2 separate regions of the Homo sapiens genome follow, and region 1 is linked to region 2. A link means that fine-mapping ties the variant in region 2 to the expression of a gene that starts in the linked region. Tissue or cell type: whole blood. Region 2 holds a variant in brackets; the other region holds the start of a gene. All regions are shown on one strand. Distances are from middle to middle.

The links. PIP is the estimated chance that this variant, and not a neighbour inherited with it, causes the effect.
Region 1: it holds the start of TNFSF9, and the variant in region 2 is fine-mapped to the expression of TNFSF9 in whole blood (TOPMed, PIP above 0.99).

What each region holds. Positions count from the first base shown.
Region 1 is chr19:6,529,925-6,532,547 of GRCh38, reverse strand. It overlaps TNFSF9 (TNF superfamily member 9), which reads right to left and starts at 1,522. Exons shown (of 3, transcript NM_003811.4): 1 at 1,245-1,522. The coding sequence starts at 1,511. RefSeq lists enhancers at 1-143, 745-844 and silencers at 1,255-1,324, 1,465-1,694.
Region 2 is chr19:6,550,709-6,553,465 of GRCh38, reverse strand. No RefSeq gene overlaps it. Among named protein-coding and RNA genes, the nearest start is that of TNFSF9, 21 kb to the right of the region's middle. RefSeq lists an enhancer at 1,500-1,569. The variant G/A (reference allele first, on the strand shown) is at 1,479.

The DNA of each region.
Region 1 (2,623 bases), 21 kb after region 2:
AACAAACACGAACACACACACGAACGCAAACACAAACACACACAAACACCCACACGAACACACACAGACACACACGAACACAAATATCCAAACACACCCACATGAACACAAACACCCACACGAACGAACAAACACAAACACCCACACGAACACACACCCACACGAACACAAACACACCCACGAACACACACACATACGCACCCCCACACGAACACACACACACGAACACAAACACCCACACAAACACGAACACACACACACACACACACACACACACACACGAAGCTGGTGGCTCAACCTGCCCCAAGGACAGATCTCCAAGAATTCAGGAGGGAAAAGCGATCCCTCTTCTTTCCAGCCCCCTTGGGGGTATTCCCCTGGGGGTCTTGAAAGGGAGAGGGGTACCTCAGATGTTGGGGATAAGGCTCTTTGGGAGTTAGCAAAGGAACTGGGGGTCTCCTTGGCGGTCCCAGATAAAGAGGAAGTGCCCCCCTCGGATCGGGGATGGAAAAAAGGTTCCCCCCAGAGATGCAGAGCTTGTGGGGGTGCGGGGTAAAAAGAGGTGCCCTCAATGTCCTAAGTCCTACATAGAGAAAGGAAGCCGTCGAGGGTTGGAGAACCGCGGAGGGTCCCCCGTCCAGGGTGCAGATGGGGTGCCTTGGGAATGCGGAATGAAGAGGGGTGCCCCCACCCACTGCCACATGGAGGGAAGCCAGCCTTTCTCCGACCCGGGGTGCAGAAGACGTATCCCTGAGGGGTTGAGGACTGTGGGGGTCTCCTCCTCCTGGCCTGGGGTGCTGATGGGGTCTCGGGATGCGGAATGAAAGGGGTGCCCTCCCGTGCAAGACGGAGAAGGAGAGCCCTTGGAGGTCCAAAAAGAACTTGTGGGGGTCTCCTCTCCCCCTCCCGGGATACAGATAGGGTCTCGTAGCGGGCGCAGGATGAAAGGGGTGCCCCCCGGACTAGAAGAAGGAGACCCTTGGGGGGTCCAAAAAGAACTGTTGGGCGGTCTCCTCCCCGCCCCCGGCCTGGGGTACAGATGAGGTGTCGTAGGGGTGCGGGATGAAAGGTGTGCCCCCCCGGCCTCGGTGCTAGATGGAGAATGGGAGCCCCGGTGGGTCTCCTCTCCCCGGCCGGGAGTGTAGAACAGGTGTCCCTGGGGGTGCGGGAGGGAGAAGGGAGTCCCAGAGGGGCGGTAGGGGTCTCCCGCGAGACCAGCTACCGAGGGTCGGGGCACGTCTCACCTGCCGCAGGTCCAAGAGGCCGGCGGGATCGTCGGGCGAAAGCTCGGGACCCTCGCGGAGTCTCGGGCTGGCCGCGGAGCCGGGCGAGGCGCGAGCCCCGGACACGGCCCAGGGGCAGGCGAGGAAGACGGCGCAGGCGGCAGCGAGCAGCAGCAGCAGCAGCAGCCCCGCGACCAGGGCCCAAGGCAGTACGCGGCAGGCGCGAGCGCGGGGCGCGGGAGGCCACGGGGCTTCGGGGTCCAGTGAAGCGTCAGAGGCGTATTCCATGACGAGAGACTGCGGGAAGACACAGCGCGCCGCTTTTTATAGCTGCTTGGCTACAAAAGGAGGCCACGCCCCTCCGCCCGCGGCCACGCCCCTCCGCCCGCGGCCACGCCCCTTCCCAGCCCAGAGCCTTTCCCCTCGTCCCCGTGACTCTGCGGAATTTTCTCCACTCGGATCTCTCTCCGCTTTTCGCTCTCCTTTCCGTTTCCGGCCTTCCAAGCTCGGCTCCAGGTTCCTTTCTCCCTGCTGTCTCTCCATCGCCCTGGTTCTCCCTCTCTGCCGCTCTTTCCCGGTATCTCTGTGGGTCTCTTGCTGACTCAGTCTCCTTTGCTCTCTGTGTCTCCCCGTTAACGTCTTTCTCTGTCTCTGTTGATTGCCTCTGCAGTGGGTGGAAAGAGATCTTTCTCTCTCTCTGCCAATTTATGTCTATGCGTGCCTCTGTGCCTGTATTATCTCTGTCTCTGTCTCTCTCTATCTCTGTCTCTAATTCTCTCTCCCTGTCTCTGGCTCTGTTATCTCTGTCTCTGTATCTCTCTGTCTAACTCTGTCTCTGGCTGTTATCTCTGTCTCTCATTGTATCTCTCTCTGACTCTCTCTCCCTGTCTCTGGCTCTGTTATCACTGGCTCTGTCTCTCTATCTGTCTTCTCTCTCTCTGCCTCTGACTCTCTCTCCCCATGTCTGGCTCTGTTATCTCTGTCTATATATCTCTCTCTGTCTCTGACTCTCTCTCCCTATCTCTGGCTCCGTTATCTCTGTCTCTGTATCTGTCTCTGGCTCTGTTATCTCTGTCTCTCTATCTCTGTCTCTGACTGTCTCTGGCTCTGTTATCTTTCTCCCTCTCTCTGCTTCTGTTATCTCTGTCGCTGTCTCTGGCTGTGACTCTCTCTCTCTGTCTCTGTGTCTGGCTCTCTCTGTCTCTGTCTCTGACTCTGTCTCTGGCTCTGTTATCTCTGTCTCTATGTCTCTGTCTCTGTGTCTCTCTCCCTGTCTCTGGCTCTTTTATCTATGTCTGTCTGTCTCTTTCTCTCTGTCTCTGACTCTCCCTATCTCTGGCTCTGTTATCTCTGTGTCTGTCTCTCTGTCTCTGACACTCTCTCCCTGTCTCTGGCTCTGC
Region 2 (2,757 bases):
ACAACAACAACAAAAAAAGGTATTGTCTTCTAAGAAAAGGAACGCTTTTACACTGTTGGTGGGAATGTAAATTAGCTCCACTATTGTGGAAAACAGTGTGAGGATTCCTCAAAGACCTAAACACAGAACTACCATTCAGTCCAGCAATCCCACTGCTAGGTGTAAACCCAAAGGAATATAAATCATTCTATTATAAAGACACGTGCATGCATATATTCATTGCAGCATATTCTCAATAGCAAAGACGTGGAACCAACCTAAATGGCCATCAATGGTAGAATGGATAAAGAAAATATGGTACATATACACCACGGAATACTATGCACCATAAAAAAGAACGAGATCATGTCATTTGCAGGAACATGGATGGAGCTAGAGGCCATTATCCCTAGAAAACTAACGCAGGATCAGAAAAACAAATACTGCATGTTCTCACTTATAAGTGGGAGCTAAATGATAAGAACACATGGACACATAGAGGAGAACAACACACACTGGGGCCTATCAGACGGTGGAGGGTTGGGGGAGGAAGAGGATCAGGAAAAATAGCTAATGGATACTAGGCTTAGCACCTGGGTGAAATAACCTGTAAAACAAACCCGCATGACACAGGTTTACCCATATAACAAACCTGCACATGTACCCCTGAACTTAAAGTTAGTTTTTGTTTTTTTTGTTTTGTTTTGTTTTGTTTTTTGAGACGGGGTCTTGCTCTGTCACCCAGGCTGGAGTGCAGTGGCGTGATCTTGGCTCACTGCAACCTCCGCATCCCAGGTTCCAGCGATTCTCCTGCCTCAGCCTCCTGGGTAGCTGGAATTACAGGCACACACCACCACGCCCAGCTAATTTTTGTATTCTTAGTAGAGACAAGGGTTTCACCATGTTGGCCAGGCTGGTCTTGAACTCCTGACCTCAGGTGATCCACCCACCTCCGCCTCCCAAAGTGCTGGGATTACAGGCATGAGCCACCGCGCCCGGCCCCAGGTTAAATTTTTTAAAATTTATATTTATGGAATCATGGAGAACTTCTCATCTAGAGAAGAACGTTTGTGACTCTATGAGGCAGAGATTTATCAAATTGGCAGGTTACGTCATGAAAACCTCCTGGGAGAGCCAGGGCCAGCCACACCCGGCCACAGACTAATTTTTCCACCAGGGAAAGTTTGTCCAGCTTATTGTGAAAATTCGTGTGGTATTGATGGCTGTGGTGGGCTGTCTGGCTGCTGCCATCACATGGCTGCTGCAGGGAGGGCCCAGGGAGGAGGCTGACAGCTCCCCGGCCACGCAGCCCACAGCCCTCTGGAGCCCACGCCCTGCTGGAGCAGCGCGGTCGGGCAGAGAGGGGCCCGGATGTGGAGCTGGGGCCGTGCTTTGGGGGCGGGGGCAGGAAGAGGGAGCAGCGCCCTCTTTGGGGACTAGCCAGCCGCGCAGCCACTGCACCCACCCCGCAGAGGGTTCAGGGTTCCTAGGCATCAGGA[G/A]GAGGCTCTGTGCAGGGCTTGCCAGCCGTGTTCTTGGGGTCCACCCCGCATCAGAGCGACCACCAAGCCTGCCACTCCCCGTGGCCAGGCTGGGGCCAGGATCAGCTCCCCACAGGCTGCCCCTGAGTGCCGGGGCAACAGGGGCAGTTCGTGGTGATATTGCCCCTGCCCTGGGCGCCAGCCCAGGCCCGGCAAGGATCAGGAATCCCCGCCCCAGCTTGCAAGGGGGAGCACCTGAAGCTGCATCCTGGGCCTCTGCAGCCGCCCAAGTTGTGGCCGCAGATTCAAGCCTCCCTGTGCTCTTGGGGGGCCAGGGAGGCCCCCCTGCCCTTGCAGGCTCCAAAGCACCTGCTCCCACTGCCTGGTTTCTCCCTGCTCTCAGCGCCTGCTCTGATCTTGGAGCAAAGTCAGGGTCCAACCTGGGGCCATGAACGGCAGCAGGAGGCAGACTGATTCCTGGCAGAAGGGAGCAAGTCCTCGCTAAGACCCCACCTTCAGGCCAGGGAGGGCCTGAAGGCTGAGGGCCACCAGACCTGTGGACCAGAGTGGGGACTTGTGATGCCTTTTCCAGGCCCATGCATGGCTGTTAATGGACCAGTCGGCACACACTGCATCCCCTCTGAGGTCCATAAAAGCCCCAGGCTCAGCCAGAGCAGGGCAGAGAAAAAGAGAGACGTCCAGATGACCAGCTGCAGAGAGAAGCCACTCTCTGTGCTAATAGCTGGAGATGACCTGACGACCAGCTGCAGAAAGGAGCTACACTCTCTGCTGAAAGCTGCAGTGAGGATGGGATGACCTGCTGGGCAGAGAGAAGCCACCCTCTCCAAGGCCTCCTCTCTGCTGAGACCTGCAGCCATCAGGAGGACCAGAGAGGAACTACCCTCTCTGGGGTCTCCTCTCTGCTGAGAGCTGAGCACTCAATGGAATGAACTGTCTACAGAGAGGAGCTGCCCACTTTGGTCTTCTCTGAGCTGTTCTAACACTCAATAAAACTCCTCTTCATCCTGTTCACCCTCCACTTCCCTGTGTAACTCATTCTTCCTGGACACAAGACAAGAACTCTGGCAAAGGTGCCAGGGGACACAGATATTTCCGACCAGAAATGTGACACCCTAAAGATTCTGTAACAGTATTACGTAAGCCTTTTTTTTTTTTTTTCTTTTTGAGAGGGAGTCTTGCTCTGTCGCCTGGGCTGGAGTGCAGTGGCACAATCTTGGCTCACTGCAACCTCCACCTCCCAGATTCAAGTGATTCTCCTGCCTCAGCCTCCCGAATAGCT